Linked DNA regions of Homo sapiens: region 2 is linked to region 1. The links come from fine-mapping of genetic effects on gene expression. A gene starts in region 1. The other region holds a variant in brackets. All regions are shown on one strand. Distances are from middle to middle. Region 1 holds the start of ZNF385D (zinc finger protein 385D). Region 2 has its middle 600 kb from the start of ZNF385D-AS2.

Region 1 (8,351 bases):
TATCTAAAACATTGATGGGGGTGGGAGGGTAAATTTATAAGTATTTATTATTTTCCCTTGCTTTTACAGTAAATCCCACTCAGGTTGCTGACTGAGATTTTCCCTGCTTCCTTCTCCCATGTGAACCTTATATTTAACTCCAAATGGTGAATGCAAGATCCAAGATTGATAGAATAAGTAACAAAAGTGTCCACGGTGACTGAACAGCAAACTCTGAAATCACAGCACAGGAAGTACAAATGAACGATTATTGAAAACACTGCACTAAAATCTCAATAGGAGATAAGAGTGAGGCTTAAGTCATTAGAAAGCTCTATTATTCTGGCAAGTCTGAGACAGCACACTACAAACATGAGCTGTTCTTGAGATCTGAAAATATTACATCTTCCACCAACTTGCACACACACACAACTGACTCCAACTAAGCAAGGGCAGGGTCCAGTTGTCCAGTCCCAAGGGGAAGGAGGAATGAATTGAAGCAGATAGGCTGAGCCAGGCTATTCAGGTAGTGATTCTTCAGCTATATTTGAAGGGGTGGGGGTGGGGGGCAACACTGACAAATCAGATGATTTATAAAGGAAGTAAATATCCCGCTTTCATATCAATTCACCCGTACCATAGCATCACCATGCTCTTCATCACGCTCTGCTGGGGACACAAATAAAGGATTTGTGACATCTCTACCCCATTCTCACAAGTCACCAGAAAAGCCTAAGAATGCAGCATTGCTTTCCCTTTGTCCCTGTTCTCCCTGACTTGATAAACCATTTGCAGTTGAAAAATGAAGAAGAAAGTAATGGCCAACCAATTTGCAAAGTGAAAGCATTGCTTGGAAAAATTACCTGAAATCGCTACAATTTTGAACACGCACACACATTAAGATACATACACATGTACACATATATGTGTGTGCGTACATACATACATATATAAATACATAGTCTTCAGCATTTTCAAACATTAGGATGCTATTGAATTTTAACATGCCTGAAGTGTACTGCTCAATTCTTTTTGCCCTCGCTCTTGTACCACACATTTTTTTTTTAGAGACAGGTGGGCTCCCAAAGTTGTGGATATCTAACAGCTTGTACGAGAAGCTGCATAGCATAACCCGAAAGAAACAGCATTCCTGAATACATAGGATTTCCTCTGGGAGCAGAAAAACATTTCTTATACCAAAATTATGGTAAGACAATGTTCAAGACACTGAGGGCAACTTTAGCCTTGCCTTTCAAAGAGTAGAGTTTCATCTAAAGTAAGTAGGACATCACATTTCAATTCGTACTATTAAAAACTTGCATTACACAATGAAATTGATTACCCTATGAATCACTCTGCTTTACAAGAGGCTGAACTAGCATACAGTTAATAACACAAGCTAGCCCACTGAACATTTCTCCAATAGTCACACGATAATCCAGTCCAGCATGGATGGCCTTTGACCAGTACTTTTAGACTCTACTGCTATTCTAATTGGCCCTACTTCCTCACGACGATCACATAAGGAATTGTTTCAAGAGGGTGAAAATATAAACTAAAATTATAATCTGTTTCATCATCCTTCAGTATCATTACTGATGCTGAAATTGTATTTTGTCCAAAAGACCTATTATCTTTACAAGCTTTTCCATTTATGAAAATATATGCATGATAAACTCTGTTAGTGGCCAATAAACAAGCTTACCACCTCCATTACTACCCACTGGAAAGAGATGGTTTTTAACTACAGATTCTGCTTAAATTTGGCAATGCAATGAAATTGTTTCTTCCAAATCATTTTCAGCTATTTTAAGACTTCTCTTCTAATATGATACAAATTATAGGCAAATCAAAACTGTCAAGACAACTAAAGGCATTTAGCTTTTGGAACTTAGATTCCTTCCACACACTCTCAAGTGTCTCAAAGCCTAAAGGAAACAAAACAGAGCAAATAGTACATACAGAAATAAATTTCCAACAAACTAATAGTGCCCCAACCTAAGTTTATCTAAATACCTCTTTAATCTGAAAGAAGACGCTAGATTTAATATTTAAAGCAAACCAAGAAATCAGAGCATTTGCATCTTGGATACATTTCCTAGCCCCTCTCCAGTTGCTCTATCAAACCTTTTAATATCGCATAGATGCCCTTAAATGATGACGCCAGATAGGACTTACAGAAGGAAAGCATAACTTCAGAGAGGAGGAACAAATATTCAGTCCTTATCTTTGACTTCTTCTTATTTAGTGAAGGGGCTTGCCTCCTGTACTAGCAGTAAGTTGCGGCGTTAGAGTGCAAATGCACAGCTCCAAGCCCACTTCCAGTGCTCAACTGATAGCTCGGATCCAAGCCTCAACATGCTTTCTGGAAATGCAGGCAGCTCAACTGAAAACCTAACTGAGGTTTCTACCGTGGCACAAAACTGACCTGCACAAATATTTGACATCTCCGAGACCTCTAAAGGTTTCAAATAATATGCATTTTGTGCTAGGCTGCTCCTAGCTAGACAGAGCACTGAGATGATATAGAGAAGTGTTCTCAGCTGCTCAACCACACTGCTCACTAGACAATGTTTTCCTTTTCCGCCTCAGAACAAGAAAAACCAGCAAATACTGAATGAAATGCTCATATTGACTAAGCTTTCACAGCATCAATTGTATAGAAACTTTGTTTCACATTCCATTAAGTTAGCTCATGACTTCCCACGCTGCACTATTTCTCCTTCACCTAGCTAAAAGAGCCAACTTCATTCAGGCAAATCAAGGCAAAGTTTACCCCCCCGCCCCCTCCACATGTCCCTGTCTCTTTTCTTTTCCAACTTAAACTCATCCACGGCTAAATTAACAGCCCCAGTTGTGGCACAAAGGAAGCTTTGAAGGCTGCACCGGCTTGGTCCTCCAGTTGCCAACTGGAGGTAGGTTTAATGTAACATATTCTTGCTGCTTAAAGAATTTTTTAAGGGCTTGTCTGCACGGATGAAGAGCCGGACACCCCCAGAATTACATCATCAGAGTGAACACTCACCAAAATACATTATGTTTCTCATTAATCAGACAGCTGGAATCCCACCGCGGTGTCTTCAGCATCAGCTCTCACCCAAGGCTGGCACGTAGAGCAGAGCCCTTTCATGCTACATTCGGTGGAAATGTCCCCGGCGTGGAGAGCAGTGAGCGCCGAGAGCGTGCCTCCTCCGCGGGATGAGCGCCTTGCAGGCTGCCTTTCCAGGGCTAAGATCCCCGGCGGCTGGAGAGTGCGCTCGGGCTGCCTGCTGCACTGCCCATCCTTACTGTAATCCGACTCCTCCTTGCGATGTCCTTGCCGCGCCTGTGACATCAGGACTGAGAGTACTACAAGCAGACCCCTCCACCCCACCCCACCCCACCCTGGGTTAGCAGCCGCTCCACGAGGTGCTCCGACTGCCTGCCTGGACCAACCATGGCTCTCGGGAAGCTTTGACGAGCCCAGAGACTTGGGAAGGGGCGGAGTGAGGGGCGCGGGAGGCTCTCTTAAAGCGAGAAGAGTGTCGGGATCCACACAGGAACACACAGGAGAAATTCACCACTGTGCAGGAGGGACGTGGTTAAGGCGAGTTCTGCCATTAACGTGTAATTAGACAACACTTTTACCCCGCCCCTCCTGTGAATGCCACCATTCTCTCCAAAATTTAACCTCCTCTACCAAGTTAAAACGGCAGTACGAAGAGGGATGGTGCCGTGCTTGCATTCTCTTTGCTGTGGGCTTGAGGGTTTGTTGTTATTTTTTGTGATGTTTATATATAAGAGGAATAAAAGGAACGCCAGGGACCACTGCTAGGGTAATAGAGGTTCACACTTAGAAGTGATCACATCCCAGAAAGCTAGTACTTGGTGAAGTGTAATTTTTTATTTCTTGAGTGTTCCCTGAGCTATTATGTTGATAGAAAGATGTGAAGAAAAATAACTGGTGATAAAAGTCACCTCTCAGTTGCCCAGGACCAAATTTGCTGCCTCCCTTAGTAGGCAGGTAGAAAGCACACTGAGGCTGAAATGATCTTTGACCTCCTGAAACGGAGAGACGATTAGCCTGAAAGGCAACCAACATTGTGCCATAGTTAGAGTCCAGTCACCAATATAATATAGCCACACACACACACACCCACCCCCCTCCCCCCCCCACCACACACACACACAACGCTCTCATTAAATTTGAGATGAACGGTCAAGAAAGGCAAAGCTTAGCAAAGCCTCTGGCTCCTCCAATGGTATAATGAATTGCAGTCCTTATCTTACATAGAAAAGGATATTAGAAAGAAATCCCTGAAAGCTGTGCTGATTAATACTTAAATGCACAGCATGGAAAAAATAAACTCATACAGCAAGTTCCGTTTCCTAAGGACTCATCACTTTGGGAACCAATTTACGTACTGGAACATTTGAACTTATAAATTTCTATAGACATTTATGAAATTAAGAACCAAATATAAACAAAGAACTGTAGTCTATGGAAGAATGCAATTGATATATTTTTAATCTGGGCTTTTATAAAAGTGTGATAGCAAAGATTTCTACATTTTGATATTAAAATATTCTATAGCATTTCCTTACGCGATTCTATATCTCTTGGTGGATTTAATGTGCATAGAAACTAGGGGGCTGAAGCTCATAATAACGGCTTTCTGTGCAATCTTGCATAAAAGCTTAACTGTATTCTACCTCTGTGAAGAGTGCAATGAACAATATCCTCTCTCACGCTAGATTATAAAGAATTTGGTGAGTGAAAGTAGGTAAGCAAATATAAATCAGAAACATCACAGTGAATCTTAAGATAAATCTAGGGCTGTTCTTTTAGAAATACTCTTAATTTAAAGCCACCAGAGGAAAATTTACATAGTAAAGGATATTAACTTTTTTACTCCCTTTTAAAAATTAAAATAAAAACAATGTTACGGGAAAGTATTGAAGAAAATGCGTAAATGTTTTTTCCTTTTGGACAAATGGAAATTGTCCAAAAGTACAATTAGTAGTTCTTCCCTCAGGCAAAAGAACCATCTGTGGTAGAGCTTATTCATGAAGCCTGTAAGCTGCCTTGACCTCCTACATGTGCTAGGGGGCACTGTAGTTTAATGTTAGTGCTTTGGGTCCATTTGAGTTCCTGTAGTTGGAAGATGCAAGCATTGAGAGTTGAGTTTCAAATAGGAGATTTGAAACATTAAAGGACTACCTTAATCATTAATAACACGCTTGCATTTGCATGACATTTTACAGTTAAAAGGCACTTTCACATGTCATCTTTATTACTAACAAATTGAGATATAGAAAGGTGGATATTACAGATGTCACAAATGAAGAACCTGAGGCTCAGAGATGTTAAGCAACTTTCTTAATGATGTGATGAGTAAGAAACAGTTGTCTTACTATTTGTTTGTTGAATTTATATTACAGTTCTCCAACAGGTTTCCTTCTTCAAATAAATGTGCTATTTATAATGGCTCAGGTAAAAGTCACCCCCAATAAAACAATGTCACTGCATGTTCTAGAAACAAATATATCTATATGGTCACAAATACATCAGCAGGGAGCATCTGGTAATAGAACATGCCAATCTTTGCCTGGTAGTATACCCCAAAAAACAGCATGTAGCCTTTGAAAGAATATGGCATTCCAGAAACAATTGAGTGTAATATCTATACAATGTAATTCTGTTCAAACAGAAAAGGAAGATGCCCTTTTAAATTAAAGATATGTGCCCCTCTTCCCTGCAATTAAGGCTTATCTGGAATGTAGAAGCTTAAGATACAAAGTTGTTTATCTCTGGATGGAAAACAAGTGATGTTTGTTTTAATTGTATACTTTTTCCTGTTTTACATAAAACTATTTTATTTATTTGTATACATTTATTAAAAAATGCAACTTTGGTGGTTGTTGTTGTTGTTGTTGTTGTTGTGTGTGTGTGTGTGTGTATTTGCGTTTTGTACTTTGAGCAACATCTCCCTAATACTCTCACCCTGCAGCTCTGGTAACCATTTTATTCCTGTTTCTATAGAGTTTGACCTTTTTACACTCTACATATAAGTGAAATCATTGGGTATTTGTTTTTATGTACCTGGCTTATTTCACTTAAGACAACAATGTCCTCCAGGTTTATCCATATTGTCACAAATGAGAGGATCTTCCTCTTTTAAAAGGTTGAATAGTATTCCATTATGTATATATGCGACATCTTTGTTATCCATTCATCCACTAGTGGAAACCTTGCTTGATTCCTGTGAGTAATACTGCAATGAACATGGTAGTACACACATTTCTTCAACATATTATTTTTTTTAATTTTGAAGCATAATAATTTCCAAATGAAACCACAGCTGATCTTGGCTAGATAGAGGATTGTGAACATGCCAGCTGTGCCTGAGAGATGCTTTCATATGTCATCTCAAGGGAGCGACTTAGCAGCTTCTAGGGAAGAATCTGGTTCACACCCTGACCTTTACCTGTCTCTAAGAATCTGTGAGAACCTAGGAGCTTCTGAAGGTGAATTAAGTCAGTTCATCTGGGGTCAGCTGTAGCACCAACCTGCTTGCCAGATAAAATTATACCTAGCACTATTAAAACAAAGGATGCCTTCAAACCACTTACATATTTTGTATTAAAATATCATGGTTGGGTGAAAATTTTTTCTGTGTTCTAAGATCCGGGTAGCTGCCTGCCTTGACTCCTCATCTCATTCAAATATTGCTCAAAGGTTTATCAGTGTACTAATTCACTGTCTTTTTTTTTTCCAGTTTTAAAATGCCTTTGTCCCTCCCCTGACATTTCTTAACCTCCTTTCCTCCCTTATTTTTCTCCATGGCAACTATCATCATCTGACACACTATTTTAGACGTCTGTTTATTTTTGATTTCTCCTCACTGGAATATAATCTCAGTGAGGGCAGGGATTTTATCTGTTCAATGCTATATCTACAGTTCTTAGAAAGGTACCTGCTACTTGTCATTATACAATAAATATTTGTGAATGAGGGAATGAATGAATGAGCATCCTAAGTACAGCTGTATTGTGTGTAAGACATCATACTTTTCTATGTGCCTGAAGTCAGTTCTTTGAGGTTGGTTGTGTTTTGTGCAAAGTGTTCACACAAATTGAATTTGTCCATGCTTAGCAGCAGCTGCTCTTAAATTCCATTCAGTACAGATGCCAGATGGTACTGCAGGCCACAGTTTGTGAGTGTGTTTGTCCTTTCAAATTCTCATAGCTGCATGGAGCAGAGACTTAGATTCAGCATGAGTTAGCATAGCTCAGTTGTGTCTTCCATTGCCTCGCCCTTGGCTTTAGTTTAGTCCACCTTTATCTTTTATCTATATTGTAGCAATAAAATTGTATCCAGTGTTCCTGATTTCAGACTTGCCCATGTCCAATTCATTCTCCATATTAGATCCATTATCATCTTTAAAAATGGTATGATCATGCCACTCCTTTGCTCAGTATTCTTCACTGTTTCCGTATTTTATCCACCAAGGTCGTTAAGGTTTTCGACAACCAAGTCCCTATTCGCTTCTCCATTTGTAAATACTTTGTCCTTCACACTCTTCACTGTGTGAAACCTAAAGTATGGCTATAATTCACCTGAAGACTACATTCCCTTTCACCTGCTCTCTCTACTGAAGCAATCTGTAATCAATCTTTGGGTGTCTGTTTAAATATTATGTCTTCTGAGAACATTTTTCTCACCAAAAGACTAAATGAGGTGTTGTTTGTATTCTTTTTCACATAGCACACTGTACTAATTCCTACTATAGCATTTAAACTTAGTGTGGGAATTTGCCTTTACTTGTATGTAACCCAAATGAAAGAGGATTTTCTTTTTTAACTCCATGACCTCATACAAATCCATCGTTTAATGAACAAATTCATTATTTATCTATGAATTCATTCAACATTTTTGAATAAATTTAACATCTTATGAATGCCTATCATGTGCCAGGCATTACTCCAGGTGCTGGATGAAGAACGCTGCAGAAAGTGCAAAGGATAAATGGGGAATACACCTTATGAGTGCCAGGAAGAACAACAAGGCCAATATGCTAGAGTAGAGTAGATCTTAAAAAGCAAACCAAGAGTTGACTTCAAATAGGTAAGATGGAGCCAAATTCAGTAGAACTTTTTAGGCCATTAGAAATACTTTGACTTTTATTATGACTTACATGATATAACTTTGGAGCAACGTGATTTGACATGCTTCAACAAGTTCACTATGACTGACGTATGAAGAATTGACTAAAGCGAGCAAGGACAGATGTAAGGTGACGGGTTAGGAAGCCTTTGTAGTAATCCAGGAAAGAGAACATGGCTTGGACCAGGGAAGAAACAGTGGCGGTAGAAAAAGTGGTCAGATTCTC
Region 2 (8,351 bases), 800 kb after region 1:
ATGAACCTAATTGAATGAAAGAAATCAAAACAAAAGAAAACACTGCATAATTCTATTTATATAAACTTAAAAATGGCAAAGTATCTATGGTATCAGAATAGTCATTATCTTTGGGCAGGAAGAAGAGTATAGTCCTTGAGAAGGGGCACAAATAGACTTCTGGGATGCTGATAGCATTCTGCTAGTATTCTGCTTCTTATCTGGTGTCTTAGCTTGGGCTCTTCTCGAAAGTAGACCCTGAAATAGGGATTTGGATGCATGTAATTTGAGAGTTGATCACATAAAGTACAAGTGAGGACATGGAGAAGGTAAGACAGGGAAGAAGGGAAAGCAAGCAAAGAAAGTTGCACTAATGAGCCGATGCCACTGCAGACAGTATGGGCTTATTCTTGCTGCTGTTAACTCTCTGAGAACCATTTGGAACAGGTTTGTCCTGCTCATGTTTCACTGGAGGATGAGGATGGAGGATGAGGATGAGGAGGATGAGCAGTCTGTGCCACCTAGGACCAGACTCCCAACCTGTTGTTTGAGGGTTGCCCCATGGGAATTAACCACCCACGTCCTCTTTCTATCAACAGTTTTTCATTGTGACAGAGAAAGTGCAAGACCCCATCTTTCCCACATGCAGTTGAATCCAGGTGGGCTGCAGGGCTATGATGCACAGCATCAGTAATGCCTGTTACAGGCTGTGTGCTGATTGCCTGGCTGTGACAATTTCTCATGCCATCTCCTTATGACTAGTACGCTTTTATGTATAAGTGTTACACTTCAATAAGAAGTTTATTTAAATATTGTTCAAAGTAAATGCATGAACTATGAATGCAGTGTCATTCCAGAAAAAGGATAATAGCTGAGATGCCTTATATTTAAGAGCAAACCCTTCTCCCAACTACTCTGGCTCAAGTTTCAAGGTGATCCAATCAGCTAGTGTTTGTCTCAATAATAGCAGCATCTCAGAGTCCCTTACATGACAAAGTTTTGCCAATATAGAGAATGATGCTGGCCATGCAATTCAACCTGTGCTTACAAACATAATTATTCACTCGGTCACTCAGTCACTCCCTTGTTCATCGAGTATTGAATACTCATTCAGTGAGTATTCAACTGACCATGCAGTTGGTCAAACACTGCATGTGGTTCTGGTGATAAAATGATGAGCAAATTCTTCCCCCACCTTCAAGGCATTCATAGACCAGTAAGGAGGAGAGATATGTCACCAATTAAATATGACAGAAATAGTTTAGAAATAAAACAGCAAGCCTGGGTGTGGCGGCTCACGCCTGTAATCTCAGCACTTTGGGAGGCCGAAATGGGTGGAACTGCTTGAGCCAGAAATTTAACACCAGCCTGGGCAACAGGGCAAAATCCTGTCTCTACAAAGAAAAAAATATATACAAAAATTAACTAGACATGGTGGGGCATGCCTGTAGTCCTAGCTACGCAGGTGGCTGGGTCAGGAGGATCACTTGAGCCCAGGAGGTTGAGGCTGCAATGAGCCATAACTGCACCACTGCACTCCAGCCTGAGCAATAGAGCAAGACCCTGTGGGAAGGGAAGGCAAGGGGAGGGGAGCGGAGGGAAAAGACAAACAGGTAGGCAAGAAGGAAGAACAGCAGCATAAGCAAAGTTCCCCGAGCATCAGTTTTGTCCAAGACGTCTGAGAATGGCATTGCAGAGACACTTGAAGGAGGAGAAGATTTTGGTGAGATGAAAAAAGCAGGCAAAGACGACAAATGTAAACAAAGACAGGAGGCTGCGGGTGCTTTCGATTGAAGGAGGATGTAATCAAGTATGGCCCAACTCTACACGGTGGTGTGGGTGGTAGGGAAATGAGTTATGGAGCTGATGTGGTAGGGAGAGTCAGATGGTAAGAGGTCTGAAATTGTACATTATTGTAACCAATATTTATTTTATACATAAGGTAGAATCTTCAAAAGTTTTGTAAGTAAGTGAGGAAGTGACATCAGCAAACCCCTGTCTTAATAAGCAGAGACATTAAGTGGAGGATAACTTGGAATGAAGAAAAACTATAGACAATGAGGTCAGTTGAGAGGCTACTGAAATACTTCAAGGAAAGGCAATATGGGCATCTACTTAGTAGAGTCTAGAGGTAATATCTCTATAAACGTCCAAGTTTTACCATTATGTGTGGTCCTAGCACCAGACAGACTATAATGTGCTATTCAAGTAATAAGCACCCTTGACAGACAAGTAAAGGGAAAAATAGCCCTCTCTAGGAACCTAAAATATATTTACAGAAGTGAGACAAGGCAAAGAAGCACAATTTAAACACCCTGATACAAAATCCTGTAAAATAATAAAAGAGAAAATGAGCAAATAAAATAGAGCTGAATGTGTAAGGAACCAATAAAGCTATCTCTAGTGACTAAGTTATTAAATTAACACACACACACACACACACAAACACACAAAGAAAATGAAATTTTTGTGAGAAAAATTTCTTGGTGCATTTTTTTTTGTTTTTTGTTTTTACAAAAAAAGGAAAGGTCTAAAATATAATTAATAGCAGATTAACAAGTCAGAAAAGCACAGGGCTTTGCACGGAATTTTAGGAATATAATTCGTATATATAAAATGTATAGACTAAATAAAAGAAAACAAATTACTAATATGCTTTGGGAAAAAAGTTGAACTTCCAATAAATAGAACTATTTTCTAGGGGAAAAAATAAGTACATGCAGCAATTCTAGAAGGGGAAAAGGACACTTAACAAAGCTGTTAAAAATCATAAGAACAATGGCAACAAAAGCCAAAATTGACAAATGGGATCTAATTAAACTAAAGAGCTTCTGCACAGCAAAAGAAACTACCATCAGAGTGAACAGGCAACCTACATAATGGGAGAAAATTTTTGCAACCTACTCATCTGACAAAGGACTAATATCCAGAATCTACAATGAACTCAAACAAATTTAAAAGAAAAAAACAAACAACTCCATCAAAAAGTGGGCGAAGGATATGAATAGACACCTCTCAAAAGAAGACATTTATGCAGCCAAAAAAAACACAGGAAAAAATGCTCATCATCCCTGGTCATCAGAGAAATGCAAATCAAAACCACAATGAGATACCATCTCACACCAGTTAGAATGGCAATCATTAAAAAGTCAGGAAACAACGGTGCTGGAGAGGATGTGGAGAAATAGGAACACTTTTACACTGTTGGTGGGACTGTAAACTAGTTCAACCATTGTGGAAGTCAGTGTGGCAATTCCTCAGGGATCTTGAACTAGAAATACCATTTGACCCAGCCATCCCATTACTGGGTATATACCGAAAGGATTATAAATCATGCTGCTATAAAGACACATGTACACATATGTTTATTGCGGCACTATTCACAATAGCAAAGACTTGGAACCAACCTAAATGTCCAACAACGATAGACTGGATGAAGAAAATGTGGCACATATACACCATGGAATACTATGCAGCCATACAAAAGGATGAGTTCATGTCCTTTGTAGGGACATGGATGAAACTGGAAACCATCATTCTCAGCAAACTATCGCAAGGACAAAAAACCAAACACCACATGTTCTCACTCATAGGTGAGAAATGAACAATGAGAACACATGGACACAGGAAGGGGAACATCACACACTGGGGACTGTTGTGGGGTGGGGGGAGGAGGGAGGGATAGCATTAGGAGATATACCTAATGCTAAATGACGAGTTAATGGGTGCAGCACACCAACATGGCACATGTATACATATGTAACAAACCTTCACGTTGTGCACATGTACCCTAAAACTTAAAGTATAATAATAAAATTAAAAATAAAATAAAATACAAAAAAAATCATAAGAACACACACACATACCTATCTGTACATTCAACAGGTACTTCTCACACACCTCTTATTTGCCAGGCACTGTTCCAGGGCTGGAGATACAGCAGTGAATGAAACAGATACAAATCCCTTCCTCACGAAACACACATTATCATCCACTTTGCAATCAATCTATTCCTTACATTTCTAAAACGCAGTCCGATCTCACCCCCTGCTTAAACCCTCCAGGGGTGTGCCAGCATGAACCCTCACTATTCTCTATGTAGCCCAGCCAGACCAAGCCCTCCCATACCTCTCTAATCTCATTTTCTTCCATCTACTTCCTTGCTTTCAATAGTCCCACTATACTAGCCTTCTTTATGTTCTTCAAATACTTCAAGCTTATTTCTATTTTAAAGCTCTGTCTCTTGCTTTTCCCTCTGCCTTGCAAGACTTGCCCCAGATATTCACATGATGCTGCCTAAGCCCTGCAGACTCAGCTCAAGTATTCTCTCCTTGGTGACATTTTCTGGACTGCACAAGCTCAGAGCACTTAGCACTTTAAAATTGTTTTATCATCTCCTCTAAGCTCCACAAGAGCATGGAGCATGTCTATCACATTCAACAGTAGAGATGCCTAGTGCCTGTAAGTGCTTGACAAACAGTAGATGTTCAAAAAGGACTGCTGTTACATGACCGAGTATGTGTGCATATGGTTTAGTGAGAGAAGGTCACTTGAAAATTGCAACTTAGCCAATTGCCCAGCCATGAAAATTTAAAGAAGAATAAGCTCTTTCTGCCAATTCATGCTGTTTGTGCTATGCCCTTATGTGGCAGGTTCTCAAATCAGCAACGGGTATTTGGTGGCAGAATGGCAGTGGTGATTTTGGTGATGATGATGATGACTAAATGAGTTTTCCTGCACTGTACCCTCAGATAACAAGTCTGTACACAGGCCAAAAACCTCAACCAACCAACCTCCAACTAACGGTCAGAAAAGATAGAAAGTAAATTCTTTTCTGCTCCTGAATTTTAATTGTGACTTGCAACGTACATGTGTTTC[T/A]CCTTTATCTTCTCTAAGCGCAAGGCACTGTCAGTTTTCCTCAGCGGCTTGCTACAATGAAGTGTGTATGTCTATGCATATATGTATTCATTCCTCAGGATTTTGAGTGAAACTCCAAGTTTTATTTACACTCGCAAAGCTTCTACAAATTTGTAAAGCCACAAAACTCAAGGCTGACTCTAAAATCTTTAGACATGCCATTCCAATTTGGTGGCAATCAGAGTTCAGGTCATATTTATGTGGCTTCTTAGTCCCAGCAATATTTAAACTTCAAATGCTGAGCATCGTATGTACAAGCATGATGCAGTGCAACCTGAACCTGGAAAAAAAAACACTCCAGCACCTTTGATTGTCCTGTTGATTGCAGAGTGGTGAACCCATGTACACTGACTTTTCAATCAACCACTTTTTGCCTCAGTCGGCTCAGAAAGAGAACTTCAGCTAAATAAATATTTCTGACAATTGACCTGCAGTGCAACAAGACGCTCACAAAAGAAAAAGGAAAAGATACATCTAAACTGCCTGTCAGCTTTTCTTTTTCTGATAGAAAGTAGAGCTTCAGATACTCTGAGAAAGATTCCAATTTGTACAATTTGTACATACTGGTGGTAGCAGAAAATAAAGCCAAACTATAAGGGAGTTCAAAGTGTCACTCATTTTACAATTAAAAATCAAGGACATCAGGAAGGAATGAAAATAACTCACTTGTATAGAGGCAGTGAAAACAACATTCACGTCACAGATATAGCCATTTCCATCTCCACCCTCCTCATTACTCAGGCTGAAAAATGGAAGAGTGAGGCTGTCTTACCCAGGCTGAACTCTTCCCTGCAGCCAGAGAAGGGGAGACAGTGGAGGAACCTAGCTGTGTCAAGCTAGCTCTGTGACCTTGGTAGGTCACCTCATGGCTGCACCTCTCTTTTCCCATCTACGAAATGCGGAGGTGGAGATGAGGATTGTAATTCCTGTTAATTCTAATATTCTAATAGTTTGTTTTTCACAACCTGCAGAAAAACATAAGGGAAAACAACTTGATACTTCTATTCTCTCCTTTCAATACAAGTAATACATGAATCACTTAAATTCAAATTGAAAAAGAACAAATAGAATTTCACCCCTTCTCCCTATTCCTAGTTTTCTCAATAATGTGTTTTAAATCTATTTCCATATCTTTCAGGACCCAAGGATATTTCTTCCTAATTTCCACCTCCAAATTTGCTACTTCATGGCACTTACTTTTTAATGAGTAAGCTTCTGCTTTCTTCAAGAAGCTATCTGAGAAGGTGGGGTCAGAGAACCAAAAGATATCATTTATTCTCTTAGGAATCTGAGACTATAAATATTTTGTTATGGGTGCAGATTCTTTTAACCTGAAGTTTAGATCATGTTAAATAGAGAGTATCTGCCTTAAAACAGCTTGACATGTGACCCCTATATTTATAACCCTTCTAACTTAAAACTGCAGTACTCACCAAAACTCACATATACCATTGCCAAAAGATTGCTACTTAAGTATGTTTTCCATATTGGGACACATAAGCCAATCTACAACCATGTATATACAATGCAAACATTTATTTCATAATTACTTTTTAATTTTGTAGATCTTCTTCAATTTGTGAATTTCCTTTGCTTTGCTGTACTTGAAATGGACAGCACATGCATGGCCCATAAAATTAAAAACCAAAAAAAGTCAATGAAATCTTTTATTTGGGAAATTAATTCTTGATGGTTTGAGTCAACAAGAATCAAGAATAAAAGATTCTAAATCTACTCTGTGAGATAAAATGGTCCCATTGCACAGTGAGTGCTCTCCTTCAAGGCAAGCAAAGAGATGCTTGAAGCCCATGATAGTGCTAGGCCCATAGAACCAATGATGATAAGAAAGCTGTTTTGCTAATGTAGGAAATAGGAAAACTTTTTATTCTATTGTTCTAGAATCAGATGATGTAAATTCCTATACCTGTATACTAGACAGTTGAAACAGTCTTGGTGACACTGATACCACAAAATTTTCTCACCAAACAACAGAACTTGGCAGGCCTAGTATCATATTCAGCCATAGTTCAATCATAAAGGAATTTGGAAAAAACTCTGCCCTAAGTTTGGTCAAGATCTTGAAACTTTATGCTATAATAAGTATCACTGAAACTGTGACAAACATTACACACATTACACATATCCTAGAACTAAAAGTTTCTTTCGTGGTTTGAATTATTGGATCCAAAAATTTTAGCATTGAAATTCTTATTGAAATGGAAAAGTAAGAACTGTTGAAGATTTTTTTAAAAAAGAACTAAGCATGAAAACCATACTTTAGCTAACAGAAAACTTTTCAGTATTCTCCTAGATATAGATACAAGTAAAATAAGCAATGCCAGCATTCTGGAGAATAGTTCTCCCCTTCTCTGTTGCTATTCCTACTTTATTGCCTTCATAGAAACTTTCCCTCTCTGACATTGCCAGATTTGCTTACCTATTCCATGTATAATATCTATCTTCCCCTAATAAAATGTAAGCTCCATGAGGACAGACACATTATGTCTCTTGTTCACCATCATATCCACAGCAAACATTTGAAAATAAAATAATTGAATAGACGAATGTATAAATGTATGAGGTAAAATTTGAATGTAGTACAAAGTTTCTTGACATGATGAAGCATGCCTGTATTGCTACAAATAAGGATAAGTAGAAATACAAATAAGTAGAATAAATAGGAAGAGAGTCATCTTTAATAAAACCTGCCTAGCATTTTAAGAAGCCTCAAATAACTTGTGCAAAAAAGTTACCAATATTATTATCCAATAATATGTTGGATAATATATTACTACATAAATAAATGTATTGTGCCTTATAATTTAAATACTTGGTGGTATACGATTAAAGCATTCTTTAAAAAGCATGTATTTCTGTTTGACTTGTTTTCTGATAAACTATTCTATTTAAATAGTGTGAAATGTGCTTTTAGAACCTAAGTACAGCATACATAACATGAACACCGTCTATTTCAGAAATAAAAATTCAGTTTACCATTGTGGGACTTAATTCATTAGTTTTTGATGTTTTAAATTAGGGATTTCTTATTTACAGTTTTTTTTCCTACTTTTTCCGTTAACATGATCCTATTCATGTTATACATTTTATAACTATCATTGCACTGTATTCTAAATTATGTTAGGTAAGTATGTTATGAAAGCATAACTAGATAAACTGGACTACATCAAAATTTAACATTTCCTCATCAAAGGACACAATCAACAGAGTGAAAAGGCAACCCATGGAATGAAAGACAGTATTTATAAATCATATATCTTCAAATCACCAAACAAATGAAGAGCTCCTACAACTCAAAAACAAATAGTTTAAAAATGGGCAAAGCACTTGAACAGACTTTTCTCCAAAGAAGATATACAAATTGCTAAGAAGCATATGAAAAGAGGCTCAACATCATTGTCATTAGGAAAACGCACAACAAAACCACCATGAGTTAC

What was found. PIP is the estimated chance that this variant, and not a neighbour inherited with it, causes the effect. A credible set is the group of variants that fine-mapping cannot tell apart.
Region 2: its variant is the best candidate, but not a certain one, in a credible set for the expression of ZNF385D in whole blood (INTERVAL, PIP 0.71).

The regions. Positions count from the first base shown.
Region 1 is chr3:21,747,891-21,756,241 of GRCh38, forward strand. It overlaps ZNF385D (zinc finger protein 385D), which reads right to left and starts at 3,320. Exons shown (of 8, transcript NM_024697.3): 1 at 3,005-3,320. The coding sequence starts at 3,026.
Region 2 is chr3:22,551,534-22,559,884 of GRCh38, forward strand. No RefSeq gene overlaps it. Among named protein-coding and RNA genes, the nearest start is that of ZNF385D-AS2, 600 kb to the left of the region's middle. The variant T/A (reference allele first, on the strand shown) is at 4,858.